Regions from separate parts of the Homo sapiens genome. Here region 1 is linked to region 2. A link means that fine-mapping ties the variant in region 2 to the expression of a gene that starts in the linked region. Tissue or cell type: fibroblasts. Region 2 holds a variant in brackets; the other region holds the start of a gene. All regions are shown on one strand. Distances are from middle to middle.

The links. PIP is the estimated chance that this variant, and not a neighbour inherited with it, causes the effect.
Region 1: it holds the start of LINC01060, and the variant in region 2 is fine-mapped to the expression of LINC01060 in fibroblasts (GTEx, PIP above 0.99).

What each region holds. Positions count from the first base shown.
Region 1 is chr4:188,451,809-188,461,983 of GRCh38, reverse strand. It overlaps LINC01060 (long intergenic non-protein coding RNA 1060), which reads right to left and starts at 6,406. Exons shown (of 5, transcript NR_033869.1): 1 at 6,310-6,406; 2 at 5,222-5,320. LOC105377609 (a long non-coding RNA gene) reads left to right here. Exons shown (of 4, transcript XR_001741960.2): 2 at 4,365-4,615; 3 at 6,358-6,546.
Region 2 is chr4:188,395,564-188,405,738 of GRCh38, reverse strand. No RefSeq gene overlaps it. Among named protein-coding and RNA genes, the nearest start is that of LINC01060, 55 kb to the left of the region's middle. RefSeq lists enhancers at 1-888, 5,416-6,167. The variant C/T (reference allele first, on the strand shown) is at 5,153.

The DNA.
Region 1 (10,175 bases), 56 kb before region 2:
TCCTTGTCTTGCTCCTCTTGATCTTAGAGGGAGACCATTCAGTCTTTAACCATTGAGTACGATGTTAGTTCTGGGTGTTTATATTTGGCCTTTACTGTGTTGACGAAGTTTCCTTCTATTACTAGTTGTTGAGTGTTTTGTAATAGAGCATCTTGTCAAATTTTTTCTTTCTGCATCAGTTGAGATCATCACATGGTTTTTGTCCTTCATTCTGTGAATGTAGGGCATTACTTTGATTTTCATATATTTACCATTCTTGCATTCTAGGACTAAAGCCCACTTTGCCATGATGTAAAATTCTTTTAATGTCTTGTGAGTTCTGATTGCTAGTATTTTCTTGAGGATTTCTGCATCAGTATTAATCAGGGATATTGGTCTGTACTTTCTTTTCTCATAGTATACTTGTCTGATTTTGGTATCAGGGTAAATCTGGTCTCGTAGATTGAGTTTGGCAGTACTCCCTCCACTTTGCTTTTTATTAAGAGTTTGAGAAAGATTTGTTTTAATTGTTCTTTAAATGTTTGCTACAATTATCCAGTGAAGTCATCTAGCCCTTAGCTTTTCTTTGCTGGGGGGTTATTACAGAGTTAATCTCCTTACTGTAAGTCTCTTGAGATATTCTGATTCTTCGTGATTCAATCTTGGCCATTTGTGTGTTTCTAGGAATTTGTCCATCTCACCTAAGATGTTCAGTTTGTTGGTATACAATTGTTCACAGTACTCTTTTACAATCCTTTTTATTTCTGCAAAATTGGTAGTAATGTCTCTTCTTTCACTTCTGATTTTCAGTTGAGTCTTCTTTCTTCCTAAATCATTCTAGCAAAGATTTCTCAATTTTGCTAACCTTTTTAAAGAACCAATTCTTTGTGTAAAAAGTTTAATATTTATATTAGCTTTACTATTTTGTTTTTATTCAAATTTATTAGCTTGATAATACATTTGGGTATTAAAATTAAAAGATACGGCTGGGTGCAGTGGCCTATGGCTATAATCCCAGCACTTTGGGAGGCTGAGGTGGGCAGATCGTCTGAGGTCAGGAGTTCGAGACCAGCCTGGCCAATGTGGCAAAACCCTGTCACTACTAAAAATCCAAAAAAAAAAAAAAAAAAAAAAAAGCTGGATATGGTGGCTCATGCCTGCAGCCCCAGCTACTCGGGAAGCTGAGGCAGGAGAATCGCTTGAACCTGGGAGGCGGAGGTTGCAGTGAGCCGAGATTGCACCACAGCATTCCAGCCTGGGTGCCAGAGCGAGACTCTGTCTCAAAAAATACGTGTGTGTGTATGTATATATAATACAACTAATCACACACTTAGTAAATGGCACACCCAGGATTAAACACAAGCTTTCCTGACATAAGTGCCATGATCTGCTCACCCAACATATTGTATTGTGTCTGGAATTTATTCCTTCTGGTGGGTTCTTGGTCTGGCTGACTTCAAGAATGAAGCCACCGACTCTCGCCACGAACGTTACAGCTCATAAAGGTAGTGCAGACCCAAAGAGTGAGAAGCACCCACGACTTATTGTGAAAAGTGAAAGAAAGCTTTCATAGGGAAAGGTACCCAAACCGGTTGCTACTGTTGGCTCTGGTGGCCAGCTTTTATTCCCTTATTTGGCCCCACCCACGTCCTGCTGATTGGCCCATTTTACAGAGCGGTGATTGGTCCATTTTACAGAGCACTGATTGGTCCATTTTACAGAGTGCTGATTGGTCCGTTTTTACAGAGTGCTGATTGGTGCATTTACAAACCTTTAGCTAGACACAGAGTGCTGATTGGTGCGTTTATAATCCTCCAGCTAGACAGAAAAGTTCTCCAAGTCCCCACATGAGTCAGAAGCCCGCCTGGCTTCACCTCTCAGTATGTAGCTTTCTAACTCCACTTTTAAAACCTTAAATGTCATATTTAATATAACTGATGGTACGGTAAAAGATGAGGTTGTTTAAAAAGTAAAATCATCACTCAGTGAACATGCTTACTTTTAACACGTAACTGAGACAACAGAGAATTATGAAACTACCCTGATATGTAGATCCCAGGGAAGAGGAGGGACCAACAACTTAGAAAGCAGGTCAGTAAAAATGTTGTTCCTAAAGACAGACTAAGTCTATACTAATGTGTACACAGGGGGATGGGAGAGGTTGATAGGGCTGTGTTTGCCTCTGCCATTTTGGGGCTCCATCCCCAGTACCATTTTTCTTAGCAATAGTGGACTTATTCCTGTGAAATGTCAATTTGTTCTACAGAGCAATTTCTCTCCAAAACTTTATAGACAACATTTTCCAGGATAAAATGAATAGTTATAGAATAAGTATTATAAGGCCAAATCTGTAAAACGCCTCTTAAAAATCAGGCAAGCCTCCATCTATATGTGTATGTGCCAGACCTGTCATTTCTTTCAGTATTTGTCAAAGGATTTCCAGACTATTAGCATAGTTGGCATTTGTTTAATTAACACTGGAGGTTGTAAATCAAAGTGAAGACTTAAATGTATTCTGTGAGACTCATGTTTCTCACTGCTAAGAATAATTGCACTTTCTAAAGAACTGAAAATTGGCAACTAAGAGTACAAATTTGGATAATTTCACAATAGTTGTTATGCCTATTATCTTCTTCTAAAAAATACATAAAATATTTTATTATCTACAATTAGTTGACACAAATTTTATAGAATTGGGAATATTGATCTTTGTATCTTAAATTTTACATATTTGGTTTATATTCATATTACCCAGCAATTATATTTAAAAGCAGAACTTAATCCTCACTCATCAAATCATATAATCATTTAGTTAGGAGGAAGATTAGGGGTTTTCTTATTCTGCTTTGGAGAGATCTACCCACTGTTTTAATATAATCTTATTTAAAAGGCTCTTCAGTAACCAAAAATTTGTAGCCTCTTTTTTTTTTCTTTCCAGTGCTAAGTCATTTTAAGGTCAGTTTTGTACCTTTATCAGATGGGCATTCTTTCTTTCTATTATTTAATAACATGTTCTCTAGTGTTTTTGTGTTTGTTTTTTTTTGAGACAGAGTCTCACCGTGTCGCCTAGGATGGAGTGCAGTGGAGTGATCTCTGGTCACTGCAAGCTCCGCCTCCGGGCTTCAAGCGATTCTCCTGCCTCAGCCTCCCAAGTAGCTGGGACTACAGGCGCCCGCCACCATGCCCAGCTAATTTTTTGTATTTTTAGTAGAGATGGGGTTTCACTATGTTGGCCAGGCTGGTCTCGATCTCATGACCTCGTGATCCACCCGCCTCGGCTTCCCAAAGTGCTGGGATTACAGGTGTGAGCCACCGCACCTAGCCCGTGTTCTCTAGTTTGTGGAGATTTCATAAATTTATCAGCGTATCCAGTTTCGAAGTCTTTGTGCTGCTCTGTGCCAGCAGGGGACGCCAGTGAACCTGATCCAGGGATATCATTCAATCCCAGAGCCTGGCGTGAAACAGCGCTGGAACGTGTGAGGGAAACGAGCTTGCTCAAAGATCACCATCCCTTAGATCTGTTCTTTCTTTGGCTTCGGTGGGACAAGTCACGGGACCACCATTCTCCCAATCATCAAGCTTGGGTTCAGCGTCCTCTTTTCTCCTTTGGACTCATATGTCATCGGCTCTAATTTACCAGATATTGCCTTCCTCCTAGCTGTTCACATTGCCATTGTCTTCACCCGCCCCTGCTTGGCACATGGCAGTAAACACTGAACACATCTCCTTTCTTTGGCTTATGTCTCTAATCAAGTCTTCACGCTTCTTAGTGTGGATTCTTCCTTACTCTCTATTTTTGCCTTTATTGGTTGATTGATCTTATTGTTCTTTGCGAGCCACAATATGTTTACATTTGAAAATTAATTACCAACTTGAAAATTATGAGTTTTGCATGAAATTCTAGATTTTTAGGTTCTTAAAATGTAACCAAGTACCCCATTTTTCTTTTTCTTTTTTCTTTTGTTTTTTAAGATGGAGTTTTGCTCTTGTTGCCCAGGCTGGAGCACAGTGGCACGATCTCAGCTCACTGCAACCTCCACCTCCCGGGTTCAAGCGATTCTCCTGCCTCAGCCTCCCGAGTAGTTGGGATTACAGGCGCCTGCTGCCACACCCAGCTAATTTTTGTATTTTTAGTAGAGACAGGGTTTCACCATGTTGGCCAGCCTGCTCTCGAACTCCTGACCTCATGATCCGTCGGCCTTGGCCTCCCGAAGTGCTGGGATTACAGGCGTGAGCCACCGCCCCGGCCCCCAGTTCTCCCTATTTTTCTACGGGTGGTTTAATTATATTTTTCCCTCTCACTCTGTTTTCTCCTTTCCCTGGCTCTCTGCTTTCTGCTTAGCTCTGCTGAAATGCAAATATAATCTCTCACCTCTCCCTCACAGGACATTGCCTACACAGCAAGTTCCTCTAACTTCGTGCTCCAAGACAGGTCTCTCCTCCAGAGCTGACGGTGGATTTACAGACCAAAGCATGTCCCCATGGAACTCTCACCTCCAGGGGCGTGCCTCGGAACTGCCATCCTCCAGGGGTGACCTAGGAACTCATACGCACCAGGACAGCACATCGAAAGCATGACCACTTGGCTACTTTTACAACTGAACTCTGCACAGGAAGGTGCCAACTCAACTGCCTGGTAGGTAACTGACCAGAAGCAGTGGGACCCCTGCCCTTGCTCATGTCCTCCCTTACCCTATGAAAATGCCCACTTTTTGCAACAGAGGAGAAGCGGCACATTCAAAGGCGGGATGCTTTGTGCCCCTTCCCCCAAGCTAACTTCGGAATAAATTCACTTATTTTGGATCAGATTTCCCTCGTTAACTGAACTGTACGTGCAGTGAGCAAGTAACCTGCATTTCAGTTACAAATTACAGAAGACCTGGCCACTCAGAGTAGATAGCCTCATCTAGTTTCAGATGAGAGAGAGCAATGAAAGTTTCTGCTTTTTTAAAAAACAAACAAACAAAAAAAACCTGGCTTGTCTTGAAACTAGGAGAATCAGGTATTCTACCCCTTTTTGGCATGACTTAAACTTACTACCAGTGTAAAGCCTTAACTCGTTCTCAGATACAAACAAGCTCTTAAGAGCAAAGGCTGCCTGAGCAGCTTATTGCACGGAGGAAGCAGGAGAAGAGAAAAGATTATGTGAATATCATGCAAGTAGTAATGAAGAATAAAAACAGGAAAGTATTAATCGAAGATGTGATTTTCCCTATGTAATCAAGAATTTTGTCATGCTTACTCCATGAGGCAGGTAAGTACGGAGGAAGGTAACAGTGACCAGAAGATTCCCTTTAGTAAACATCTCCTCAGGGATCTGTGAAGTCAGGAATCTCAGCTCCTGTTACAAATCGAAGGCCATTAATTACCATGGTGTCTGAAGTTGTCAATAGCCCACCCCTTTAATTCCCACATAATCACTTCAATTATTGTGCTCATTGTATGTAGTTATTGCTTGTCTCCTCCCACAGAATGTAAGACCCATGACAGAAGAGACCATATCCATCTTTTTAGAAAAGTCCTTGACCTGTAATACTCATTCAAAAATGGTTATGGAATTGATGAATTCTACAACCTGAAAAAAAAGTTAATACTCTGTCTTCTGAAAAACAAAAACAATACAAAACAAGTGCATTATCTTCAATGGCCTGCAGTATAATAATATTAAAAACTGTAGCCTTATTTTCAAGGTCTTGAGGACCTGAATGATCTGTTCCAAATCTAGTATCCTCTGTTTCTTTCCAAATTCTTCTGTCTAGACATCCTGTGCTCCAGCCACAGAAAGTACTTTCATTCCCTCGGCTTATGCTTTTTTTTTTTTTTTCTTTTGAGAGGGAGTCAGTCTCTGTCGCCCAGGCTGGAGTGCAGTGGCGCGATCTCGGCTCACTGCAACCTCCACCTCCCAGGTTCAAGCGATTCTCCTGCCTCAGCCTCCCAAGTAGCTGGGACTACAAGCACACGCCACCACGCCCGGCTAATTTTTTGTATTTTTAGTAGAGACGGGGTTTCACCGTGTTAGCCAGGATGGTCTCGAACTCCTGACCTCGGGATCCACCCGCCTTGGCTTCCCAAAGTGCTGGGATTACAGGAGTGAGCCACCGTGCCTGGCCCAGGTTATTCTTTTAAACTGTTCAGACCATCTCACATTGCATCCTTCGCTCATGCACTGTTTTGCTCAATCTTTACCTTTTCTCTTCCACATCATCTTACAAGAACCACCCAGGTGGTATGTTCTCACTGACGTTTCCACCATTCCCCTTAGAATGAACCTCTCTCCTCTGATTTCCTGTGGTATATCACAACATGCATTTTAATCTTTTCCACACTTACTGTGTTTTATTACTCTCTCCTCCATCTAACTGGAAACTCATTGCGAAGAGAGAGATTTGGATATCCACCTTCCTGTTGACTTGCCCAGATGTCTATCACGGTGCCTTCCGTATCCCAGGAGGACGTTGAACATTGGCAGGCATGCCTAGCTGAAAGCCGATGCACCGAGGCCTGCTCCATGCTAAGGCTGTAATTCTTCACCCCAAGAATCTTCATTCTGGTCTTCAAGTATTCAAGGTAAACAGTCAGTTGTAGGCAATAATGTTATGTGACTTCTTCTGTAATTCCTTCTTCTTTTGTATCTATTTTTGCCTGGGTGGGGGTGGGAGAAAGGGGTGTGAGAAACTCAAGTCCTGATGTCATGGTTTGCTCTTCCTTTTCAACATTCATAGACCCCAGGTCCCAGTGCCCAAAGAGTCTCTTTCTTTTATCTACTAATTATTAACTGGGGATGCAAAGCAGAATCTCCAGCTTGAGGCACCCAAGGTGTCTCCTGTCAGAGCTCCATTTCAATAGTACATGTTATGGTTTGAATGTGTCTCCAAAAGTTTATGTGTTGAACACAGGAGTAAATTCATTATGGGGTGAGTGGGTTTGTTATAAAAGTGAGTTCAGCCTCCTCTTGCTGTGTGTCTTATGTGCTTTCTTGCACTGCCACCTGGCACCGTGGAAGAATGCAGTGAGAAGCCCCTCACCAGATGCTGGCCCCTAAATCCTGACCTTCTCAGCCTTCAGAACTGTGAGGAAGCAAATTTCTGTTTATTATAAATTACCCAGTCTGTGGCATTCTGATATAGCAGCGAGAAACAAAGACAGCACTCCTCTGTCTGAGCGTCCACACTCTCCTCCCTGAATCCTGATGAGCATATTGTCTGTCCTCCCTCAGGCACAAGTGAAGCAGCCTACTCTGCGACACAATGGCTCCTGGCCCTTTGGCATTAGGGAGGGAAACACGGAGCAGGGAACCCCTGAGTGTGCTGCTTCACAATGCACGATCCCCAGGTGCTGGGAAGGGCTGACAAGTAAGATCAGAGGGACAAATGAGAACATGGGGACAAGTTGTGAGATGAGGGACCTGTGGCTCTGGAATTGTATTTCTGGGAAACTGCAAGGAAGCTGTGTGTGTGTGTGTGTGTGTGTGTGTCTGTGTGTGTGTGTGTGTGTGTCTGTGTGTGTGCAAGTATTTGAAAGAAACTAAAAATAGAGAAATTCAATCATACTAGTATCTCCAACTGCTTCTGAGTCTGTGACTAGACCAATGATAATAAATGATAAAGAACTACCATGCATTTATTTATTCAAGAAACATTTACTGAATACCTGCCCTCGTTCAAGTAAAAGACTTAATGGTAGGAAAGTCATATGTTAAATAAATTCAATTTTTGTTACAAAGAAATACAAGACTGCCATTAGAGAATACACAGGGGACCTGATATGTCTGCTCTGTGGGGGAAGGTTCTCCCTAAATGTAAAGTTTAAGATGAAACCCGAGGGATAAGTAGCTGTTATGAGAGGGAGGATTAGAGGAACATTACAGTGTAGGGGAAATCTTTGTATCAAGACACATTTTGAGGCCGGGCAAGGTGGCACATGCCTATAATCCCAGCACTTTGGGAGGCTGAGGCGGGTGGATCACCTAAGGTCAGGAGTTCGTAACCAGCCTGACTAACATGGTGAAACCCCATCTCCACTAAATACAAAAAAATTAGCTGGGCGTGGTGGTGCATGCCTGTAATCTGAGCTACTTGGGAGGCTGAGACAGGAGAATCCCTTGTACCTAGGAGGCAGAGGTTGCAGTGAGCCGAGATGGCGCCATTGCACTCCAGCCTGGGCAACAAGAGCAAAACTCCCTCTCAAAAAAAAAAAAAGAAAAAGAAACATTTTGATCAACCACTAGAATTGTATTGTGGTTGGAGCAGAAAGTAAGAAGAGTGATAGGGCTACTGAGGTGGGTAGGACTGGAGCATGGAAGCTGTTCTGGAATGGACTTGGTCTGCATCCTTGAGGACATGGGGGCCAATAGAGATGCTTAGCAGGGAAATGACAGGTGCAGGCTTGCATTTTTAAAGCTAAATCACTATAGCAAGGCAAGGGAGGCAAGAGGACAAAACTAAAATTATGTTTCAGAAGTTGAATAGCAACACCATGGCAGTGTGTGTGAACTGCAATGCCATTCAAGCCTATTTGCTTTACTATATTGTAAGTTATGTGTGTCCTTATATATATCAGATTAACAGTATGCTTGCTTGCTTGGCTGCAGTGCTAACCTCTGAAAACATGTATTCAGCCTGCATCCATAATATGGTAGTGGCAAGGTATTAACAGAACCAGGTATAGGTGAAATGTTTTCTGAATTTTCCTCTTGTTTCCTCTCAAGATTGTGATCCAGCTTCCCTCATCTAATTTATTTGCTCCACTCATTCATATGGATGAGAAATCTTTATTTATTTTTTAAGCCTATACATGGCTGATTATTTGTAAACTTAAAGAAACTGTCCCAGAAACTCTTCTGCTCAGTGTAAGGGTCAGATAACAGCTATGAAAACATTACTGACTGCAAAAAAAGTACATGTTTCCTGCCCAAGAGAAAGAGCATAGTGGCCCCAATTCAATCTCCTAATACAGCTATTAGAAAAAGAAGAATGAGTTTTCTGCTCAGAAAATATTCTTTCTTCTCAATAGCTCACTCCATGGCTAACTGTCCACTTTGTACAGCAAAAGTTAGTTCTGTCCAAGTATTTCAATTTGGCAGAACAGACTTTAAGGCCAAAATAATTTAGTAAAAAATTCACTAATCTTCCATTTCATGGCAGGGAATATTGAAGATCATTTGATAAAAAGAAACATTATAAACGTTAGGTAACAACTATCAGGAATTGAACTGTGTGATTTGTTAAGGGAATTCACATATGCCTTATTTCTTCTTATAAACTGAAATTCAACCACATCTCAGACTTAGAAAAATAGAATTTTAAAGATTATAAGATTTATAATAAATAGAAATTTCAGAATAGGAAATACAGAATCTTGAGATTGAAACAAATGACCACTAGTCCAACACCATCTCATACTTCAATCTTCTCAAGGGCATTCTAATCAATTGGTAGTTTTTCCTGCGTTTAAGGATTTGAAGTGTCAGAGGTCTCAATAGTTTCAGAAAAGGACTTCTAGAGAGAGCTGCTATCTCTTCAGTTACCCCCGAGATCAAGCGAATCGAGCGTACTTCCTCTGGACCTAACAGTCTCATGGCACACCCCCAGCTCTCCACCTGGGCCACACTGGACACGGCAGTTACTTCTCGTTTCATCCTAGCTGTGCTCCTGCGCATGAAAACTTCATCTGCTCCCTGCAGCTTCCTTGATTTTGCCAGGCCTGACTTTTAACGCTTACTGTATAAGCAATTAACAGGATTTGAAAAGTCAATGGGAAACAGATCTTCAAGAGCATTCTCTGAATACCAGCACCCCGTGAAGCGGTTTTAAAATGTGCAGCATCGCCCTAGAGATACTCTGACCCCAGTCAATTATTAGGGGGATTATGAGAGTCCAAACAGCATTTATCAAACTGACAGAAAAAAACAAAATCCCAAACTAGTACATACCTTTTGTAGCAAGTTATTTTAGTAGAAGAAGTTTTGCTTTTGAAAATATGGATGAAACTACAGGTTCATTTCTCTGCTTAGTCAGAATATGGAATAATAATGAAGGGGCCACTTTTTACAGAAGCTTTCCAATAGCCTCACTTCCTACTGCTCCTCCTTTTCACCCTGAGTCCTAAACTAACTCCAAAGATAAATTCCCAGCCCTGGGCAAGTAGTCTCCCAGAGGGTAGCACTGTTACAAGAAGATAGAACATATCATAGGTTC
Region 2 (10,175 bases):
TACGTGTGTTCTAATTGCAGGCACACAAGACCGTTCCCGTGGCTCCCAGAAGGCTGCGGTCAGACGTTATCTCCAAGGAGGAAATTCTCCTTTAGACACTGGGGTCAGGTGATGCCCAACAACAAAGGTCCGCTCTGTTAAGGGGACCACTGGCCAATACGCCATCCCATACGGACTCCCAATCATCTCCCAGTGCATCACACTTAGTCATGAATGCAGAGCCAAGGACCACTGGCCAATACACCCACTCCCTACGGACTCCCAGTCATCTCCCAGTGCATCACACTTAGTCATGAATGCAGAGCCAAGGACCACTGGCCAATACACCCACTCCCTACGGACTCCCAGTCATCTCCCAGTGCATCACACTTAGTCATGAATGCAGAGACAAGGACCACTGGCCAATACGCCCACTCCCTACGGACTCCCAGTCATCTCCCAGTGCATCACACTTAGTCATGAATGCAGAGGCAAGGACCACTGGCCAATACGCCCACTCCCTACGGACTCCCAGTCATCTCCCAGTGCATCACACTTAGTCATGAATGCAGAGGCAAGGATCAGGAGGCACTGGGGACAGAGTTTTCATGTGAGTGGAACAAAATCAGTCTGACAGATTAAAGGAAACACAAAAGAAGAGAGAGAGTGCAGAAACAGAAAAAGTTATATTCGGAACCCTATTTCTAAGTATCTTTGAAGATACAAGACCTACAGCAAGAAAAAGATAGCAAGGAGAAGCAGCTCTTTCGTAATGCATATATAGGTGGTAAAATTATAAACACAGCTAAGACATGATGACACTAAAGGCAGAAAAGTGTTTGACTCCTGGGGGTACTGGGGTAGGGGCATGAGGAAGAGTGTGGTGACTGGAGAGGGACACCTGGGAGACTGCTAGGTTTTGGTAAGACTTTATTTCTTTACCTGTGTGGTTGTTGCATATTATATGGCTTTATAACCACTTGTTAAATATACATTTACATTTTGCACATCTTTCTATATGTATGCTGTATGTCTCTTTCTCTCACACACACACACAGTGATAAAGGGCAAAAATGGAGAAATTGAAAGGGCTCTTGGAAAATACAACTCTGACAATACCCCACCCTCCTTCCAAAAAAAGAAAAGATTGAAAGTGGAAGATGGAAAGTCGAGGTGGGAAATGAGGAAGCGTATTTGCAGATGATATAAAGAAAACATTCTCCCAAAATCATCCACAGAACTTGAAATAGAAAGGAAAAGTCTACTTTTAATGAAAACAGGAGTGAGGTGAAATGCCAAACCTCAACACAGAGAAAAAGCCTGCCAGCCCAGGGCAAACTGAGCAGGGCTGCTTGTGGGGAGGAGCAGAGTACTGACACTGAGGCCGCGGACACCATAAAGCCCAATGTGAGAGGCCCGTCCTAGAGGGCTCGCCACAGTGGCACTGGAGGCACGGGCTGCTACTAATTTCCCCCGGTCCCGGGTCACAGTCTAGAAACAGAGGTAGAGTTAGACGTGGGCCACCAAACCCACCACAGCCAGATGACAGGCTGGGGCAGAGCAATGGCCGCTGGATACCAAATATGACTGTGAGGCTCTACCTTGTCCTAGCCAGGGACCTGGCCCTCCATGAAATGCTTCCCTCTACCTACAGGAAAGAGACGGTTCAGGAGAAACAAAACATAGTCCAAAATGAGGAATCAGAATTAATTATAAATGCCTTAAAATAATGCAAAATAAGCAGAGTTACACAAGCAGAAAATGCATGCCCGATCCAGAAAGTGCATCCGAAACTGTAAAATGTGGCCACTGAGAAGCTGCACCAAATATTTTACCACTATTAACAACAGGCAGGCGCAGTGGCTCACGCCTGTAATCCCAGCACTTTGGGAGGGCGAGGCGGCTGGATCATTTGAGGTCAGGAGTTCGAGACCACCCGGGCCAACATGGTGAAAACCCATCTCTACTAAAAATACAAAAATTAGCTGGGCGGTGGTGGCGCTCGCCTGTAATCCCAGCTACCTGGGAGGCAGAGGCGGGAGAGTTGCTTGAGCCTCAGAGGCAGAGGTTGCTGTAAGCTGAGATCACGTCACTGCACTCCAGTCTGGGTGACAGAGAGAGACCCTGTCTCAAAAAAAACACGAAAAACAAAAAACAAACAAAAAAAAACAACAAAAAACAACAACAACAAAAGAATGCAAAATAATGAAACAATCGCCACGCTGAGCCAGAGGCAAATGGCCAACCACCAGACCACAGGCAGGCTATGACGGGCTAGTCGCCCTCTGCCATCCTGCTAAGGCACTGCAGTCATGTGAGCAAGCCTGGGCGAGATTAGCCAGAGCCAGCCCAGACCATGGGAACTCTTCAGCAGATCCTTAGGTTAACAAACTGTTGCTGTTTGAAGTGACTAAATTTGGGGATAATTTCCTAATCAACAGAAGCTAACAGACACACTTGGAAATTACAGATTTGAAATAGATGTGGAATGTCTCCCTCATCACCTATGTTCCATTGCCCTTGGAACAGGGGGGCTGTGAATCAATATGTGGCTTGTAGCTTTGTGTCTAGAAATAGCATAAAAAATTGTTGGGAAATCAAGGCGGTGGCTTCTGATTATCCATGTGGCCCGCAAGCACCCTGACTCTTGTTTGTGGCAGCCACATAGGCCCTGGATAGGTGAAAGGGCAAAGGGAGCTGTGGGTGCCCCAGGACACCAGCTGTGTCTCCCGGCCTGTATCCTCCTTTAAAGCCCAGTAAATGTAGCATCAGATTAAAGCTGTCTGTGTCTTGCAAGTCTGATGGCCAGCTTGAATCTGTAATCACAAGGGCAGTGTGTAGCAGTATTCAATACTGAAAGAGCTGAGACCTGTGAAATTTTGCACCAAGAAAGTGCAACCCGGAAATTTTATACCAACTATTATTTCAATCAAGTATAAACGCAATACAAACTGATTTTTGAATGTTCAAAGATATGGGAACATTGTTTATATGGAACTGCTTGGAAAATCTAGCAAACAACAATCATCAGTGAACCAAATGTTGATAGGGTATGAAAAGTTGCAGCCAGGGCCTGGTGACGAGCATGGAACCTGCCTGATGGTAGGAGAACTCAGTGAAAGAGACAAGAACGGGAACAGAATGTCAGCACTACAAATGTTAAAACCATCGCTGTGATCTGACTACCACGGAGTGTTTTGTGTGGCATCACTGATTTTCTTCTCTTTAAAACACAGGGCAGAAAAAGCATAGAAGTAAGAAAAAGTAGCAGAAAAGAAAAAATAAGCGTGTGATTCACAATGAAGATATGCCAGTTATGAATTCTAGAGATTAAATAACAGAGCATCAATGTTCTTAAAACAAAAAGTAGGCCGGGCGCGGTGGCTCACGCCTGTAATCCCAGAACTTTGGGAGGCCGAGGTGGGCGGATCACGAGATCAGGAGATCAAGACCATGCTGGCTAACATGGTGAAAGCCCGTCTCTACTAAAAATAAAAAAAATTAGCCAGGCATGGTGGCGGGCGCCTGTAGTCCCAGCTACTCCGGAGGCTGAGGCAGGAAATGGCATGAACCTGGGAGGCAGAGCTCGCAGTGAGCCAGGATCGCGCCACTGCACTCCAGCCTGCGCGACACAGCAAGATTCCGTCTCAAAAAAAAAAAAAAAAAAAAAAAAAAAAGTAGAGCATGCATAAGGAAAGACACAGACACAGGAGCACAGCAGGGAAAATTACATCACCTCTATCAGGCTGTGACTGCTGAAGAGAGCAATAGTAAGTCATGATGTAAAAATGTAAATCACATAGTTTTCTCTAATTGACAGATAACAAACTTGGCACCTTAAAAATATAGAATGCTTTTTTTTTTGATTCCACAGATCATAAAAAAGACTATATTTCAGACCACAAAACTTCAGTAATTTCTAAAAAGCATTTTTAATTATTTGATTAAGATGCAGTGAAATTAAATAAACAATAAAACTCCAAAACACTAAAAAACATACAGTTTTTGGAAGTTTTCTTATATCATTAAGGGCCAAAGAGAAAAACGTTGAAGAATATTTGTAAAAGAACTGACCACATATGACAACATCTGTATGACCCAGGTAGATCTGCACTCAGAAGAAATTCTAGAGCCTTAAATCATCATATTAATAAAAACAAGAAAAAACTTTAATATATCAACAAAATATAGACAAAATATATAAAATAGACAGAAAATTAAGGCAGAACTTACTGACTAAAGCAAAATGGTAGTAGTAGTAGTATTTTTTAATTTAAGAGCTGTATCTTTAGCGAAGAATTTAATATGTAAACTACCTTATTCAAGAAAAAAAGAGAATGATAGTACATTAAGCAAGAAATAAGTAAAGGTCAATCACAGATAGAGACCCCTGCAATAGACCACTAAGACTACTTAATTTCATGCAAAGATCGAACAGAGGCTTTGCCTAATCTCCAGGCCGTGGGAGTCTCAACCTGAGAGAGGAAGGAGTCTCTTCTCCTGGACCTGATAGTCCAGGGGAATCTGTGGGTTGAAGGTTCTGTTCACATGTTCCTATCTCACATCTCAGAGCCCTTCTTTCCATTGAGTGCCCTCACTTTGTGTAGGACCCCTTTTAGGGCTGAGAATTTAGCCTATAGTGAGTTAAATCATGGTCTCCAAAAAGATATATCCATGTCCCAGTCCCCCAAAACTATGCCTGTGACCTTATTTAGGAAAATGTTATTTGCAGATATAATTAAGTACCTCAAGATGAGATCATCTTGGGTTATCCAGGTGGGCCCAACATTCAGTGACATACAGAAGAGAAGACACACAGAAGAAAAGACAGAGAGTATAAGTCCATGTGAATATCCAGGCAGAGATGAGTGTTGCAATCAAGAGTCCAAAGAAGAGAAGACAAGCGTATGTTCCAAGCACACTTACCCAGTTTCTTGTTCTAGGCAATTCTGTGTTGAGCTCCTCTGGGGCAGAACAAAAGAGTATTGAAAGTATTGTTGTCTCTGTGGACCAAAGCCTGTACTGACCACAAAACAAAGCCCTTCTTGGATTCACCCTCAGCCCACACTCAATCATGTGGGTACATGGCAAGAAGAGACATGAAAAGATAAAATGAAAGAAAAGGGGCCTCTTTGTCTCAAATCCCAGAGAGCTGAAATCATGGCCTTCCTTC[C/T]GGATCAGGCTGAATGGTGGCCCCCAGGGAGATGAGTCCGTGTCTTATTCCAGGAACCTCTAATTGAGACCTTATTTGGAAAAAGAGTCATCAAAGATATAATTAAGGCTTTGAAATGAGATCATCTTGGATTATCTGGATGGGCCTTAAATCCTTTGAAGACACACAGGAAAGAATGATGTGGTCAGTTTTAACATGTAGATTGTATTTTAATTCAAGTATAGTGAGGCTGTGAAAGGAATATAAAAATCTCAGGACCCCAAACTCACTATGCCAAAGGGAAAAGTGAAGCTCAGTAACTGCATCATGCAAAAACTGCCTTCCATTTTGTTCCTAAGTAGATAGCTGCAAAGACAGAAGGCCACATGTCTCCCCCGGTGGCCTCCTTCACAAATTGCTCACAAGGAAATTCCTCGTGGGCCCCAAGAGCTTTACCCTAAAACAGAACGCTGTTCTATTTCACCTTGACAATGTAAACTAACAGCTTATCTTCACCGGTACCTTGACAAAGACAGGCCTAGAGGGCATCCCTTGGCTCACCTGAGAGGAATGCATATTTGAGCACCTCCTCTATGTTTACTTTATCTTATGCAAAAATGCAGACGCACTGAGCACTATGCATAATTCACTGTTTCGCTACCCACTCCTTTCACATGTAAAATGTAGATTCAGTAAGTGCTAATCAAAGCCTCCAAAGACTAACCACTTTCCTGTTTTGTCTACCTTCTCTCTCTTTTTTTTATCCTCTTTCTTCATCTGCCCTCCCTTTTCCCTTTAAATCAGGAGTGTCCAATCTTTTGGCTTCCCTGGGCCACATTGGAAGTATTGTCTTGGGCCACACATAAAATACACTAACACTAACAAAGCTGATGAGCTAAAAACCAAACACACAAACCAAAAAATGGCAAAAAATAAAATCCCATCATTTTAAGTAAGTTTAGTAATTTGCTAATTTGTGTTGGGCCTCATTCAAAGCCATCCTGGGCTGCATGTGGCCCTTGGGCTGTGGGTTGGACTAACTTGCTTTAAATATTGAAGTCCTCAAACCCTGTTTGCATGGCCACACTGGTGATCTACCTTGCTTTATATATGAAGTTAAGTTTGTAAGTATTAGTGAATATGCCTAATAATTTGATTTATTTGTAGCATTTGCATCTAGAGAATGCTTTAAGTCTCAGTTTGTTAGCCAATGGTGTAGTCACTAACTGTATTTTTAAAATAAAAAATGCTGTTGGTAAATCGTGACTACTGACCTGGCACTAAAAATGTTTAAACTTACATATTTTTGTCCCAGGAAAATGGTGATACTTTTCTAATTATGGAACAGAGACATGTGTATCCATTTCCTGCTTGTTATAAAGACCTACAGAATGCTGGCAATAGATTGAAACTATCTTCAGGAACTCTTACTACTATTACTACATAAGTCCATGCCATTGGGTCTAGAACTGACCAGCGACTCCTATTCCAAGTGGAGGTTTCCCTGCAGTCACATCCCTATCCTGTCTTACAGCTCTCTGTTAAATGCCAATCTTTTTCTTTTGCAGGGAAGAGCGTGATTAAAGAGCTCTTGTCTCCATATTGGAAACTGGCCCTGATCACTGTGGCAGCACACTGAAGTATGTGATAAATAATTTATGAACCTCGGAGGTCTGCTGTGGGGAGATATTCACCTTTGCTCCATCCGTGCACCACACATCATGCGTCAGCGCCAACACGGGCACATGCAGTTCTGCCTCAAGGTGGGTAAAGCTACACGTTCAACAAACCCGTGAGTAGAAGTGCACCAGGGGAGCTCTGCTGCCGCAACGAGACCACTTCTGGTAATTTGGGAGCAAACTGCTTTGACCAGGAACGTTGGGAGATTATACATAGAAAAGAGGTGTTGGAATTCCTTTTTATAAATGATAAATATTACCACAAAAGGATAAAAATGGAAGATGGTTTTGAATGTCGGCAAAACTGCCCGAGAACTTTAATTAGGACAATGTCGCCACAACGACTGCTTTCAAAACCATAACTTTCAGAATGCTCTGGGCACCACATGTGCCACATGAGACTTGTTAAGGCAATTTCCATTGTAACAAACAGCCTCAAAAAAAATAAAATAAAATAAGTTGCACATGCATCAAATTTGCTTTTAAAATTATACAGGATTTAAAAGAATTTTATGGCCAGATATATTGAGCAGAGCAAAAACTTTTAACAGAATACAGAGAATAAACAGAAACTATTTATTTATACATTATTCACAAATATTCCAAGTTCTTGTTTATATCATTTGCCTTTCATCAAAAGATAAAATAATAACACAGTGTTAACAGAAAAACTTCAGTAGAATTAAACTTTTGGGTTTTTTGAGACGGGTTTTGCTTTTGTTGCCCAGGCTGGAGTGTAGTGGCACGATATCTGCTCACTGCAACCTCCACCTCCCGGATTCAAGCGATTCTCCTGCCTCAGCCTCCCAAGTAGCTGGGATTACAGGCACGCACCACCACGCCTGGCTAATTTTTGTATTTTTAGTAGAGATGGAGTTTCACCATGTTGGTCAGGCTGGTCTCGAACTCCTGACCTCAGGTGATCTGCCCTCCTCAGACTCCCAAAGTGCTGGGATTACAGGCGTGAGCCACCGCACCCGGCCAGCTGAATTAAATTTAAAGGAGTTTACTTGAGCAATGAATGATGCGTGAATCAGCTCCCAGAATCGCAGCAGATTCAGAGAGACTCCAGCACAGCCACATCGTGGAAGAAAATTTGTAGACAAAAAAAGGAAAAAGATGTACAGAAATCGGAAGTGAGTTACACAAACAACTGGACTGGTTACAAGTTTGCCTTACTCGAACACAGTTTGAACACGCAGCAGTGTGTGAGTGGCTGAAGTATGGCTGCTGGACTGGCGATTGTTCCACGTACATACTCCTAAATTAGGTTTTCAATCTTGTTGTCCTATTAAGTTAGGTTATGGTTCCTCTACAAGGACTCAAGTATAGAAGTATAGAGTCCTTCCCAGGCCATATTTAGTTCGCTTTAACAATAGATAATTCTTTTTTACAATTTGAAGTGGCTGTGTTCTTAAATTATGAACTATTCCTTACATTTCTTTATATTAGAAATTCCTAGCCTTTAAAGTAACAAACAATACCTTTAATTTATTTTCATTAGTGCTTTCTGGCCAACAATACTGTAGTATTTATTAGAAACTCATAAATTAATTTCATCATAAAGAATTATTTGATAATGCTTACTCGATACAATGTGATTTTACATATAACTACACATTAAAATTGTAAGTGCCTTAACATATATAATATTATAAAAACATAGTTATTAAGAAATGTCCAAAAGCACATTGAAAAATGTGGGGCATTTATGATTTTTTTTCAAAGTAAGATTCACTTCCATAATTGTAAGAAAATCAGGCATGTCTATTTAGGTATTTGCTTATGATGTGAGCAAACCTTTATTGTGACAATCATGGGATAAGTAAAAAGAAGTAAGACACAAATCATCTTAAAGGTGTTCTATATATATATGTGTGTGTGTGTGTGTGTGTGTGTGTATATATATATATATATATTTTTTTTTAAGACAAAATCTCGCTCTGTCACCCAGGCTGGAGTGCAGTGGCGCGATCTCGGCTTACTGCAACCTCCTGGTGAGCTTTTCTCCTGCCTCAACCTCTCGAGTAGCTGGGACTACAGGCACCCGCTACCACGCCGGGTAATTTTTTGTATTTTTAGTAGAGACGGGGTTTCATCGTGTTAACCAGGATGGTCTTGAACTCCTGACCTCGTGATCCACCCACCTCAGCCTCCCAAAGTGCTGGGATTACAGGTGTGAGCCACTGCGCCCAGCCCTGTGCACAATACATTAACAGACAGATTGTAAATAATATTATAAAGTGATAAGATGACAAAACAAAACTACAGATAAAATTCTACAGGAGCAGCCAGTAGAGAGTGATTGATCCTAACTGAAGTTTAGGAGAGACTTTATTGTAAAAACATCACTTTAGGGAGCTTTTGACAAGTCAGTCGAGCTTCATACACAGAGAAACTGGGGAAAGGGGAGGGAATAGCATAGAGATGAAAAATAAGGCGTGTTTTAGTTACTACAAATATAGAATTTGAGTTAATGCATACTGTAAAATTTGCACACTACCTACCTAATGTACACAAGTAGCCGTAACTGAATAAAAGGGCTAAAGAAAGAAATAGTGGTAAAATAAAAGTATTAACTTATGTCAACAGTGGGTTTTTTTTTCCTATTTTATTTGTTTATTCCTGGATGGATTTAGTGGATTCCTCTCTATGTCCTTTTACTCTAACCACATCGATGCATACCTGACTGATTTGTAAATGCTAGCATGTACATTTTCTGCACGAGGGCTTTCTCTGACTCTGAAACCTCCTTGGCTACTTTTTCTAGGCCTGAAATGCTGGAAAGTGATCACTCATAGGTACAGCCACGACCAATGGCTGATGGAAATTGGTGTGTAAATATTACAATTACCTTGGCCCACGGGTGGGATTACTCAGGTACACATTTTACCCTGGCTTCTCGGTTTCCGCAGTAGGATTAAGCTCCAGTTGTCCACAGTGATAACGCCCTTGAAAATAAAGCCTTTTTTGTCATTATTTTCTTCCCTATCTCACTTCCTATTCTTTTCGGATCATCTACAAAATAAACCCCTCGCACTTGAATGGCTATTTTGGTCTGGGTCCCAAATTGAAATGTACATTGGGATAAAAGTACATGAAATAAAATTAAATTACACAAGCAAGAAATAAATTTTATTTATTGTAAGCCAGTGAAACTTTGAGGTTGTTTGCTGGGAAGAATAACAGGATCTGCAATGACTAAACAATAATCTATTAGAGAAAAGAAGTCAACTACAAAATTGGAATAAAAAGCATTGTGTTATAAATAACAAAGAAGGCACTTGAAAAACAGTTGCTTCTTTTACTGTCTGAATTCACCATGGAACACGGGTTGGGCCAAAATGTGGAGATTTGGAAAAGAA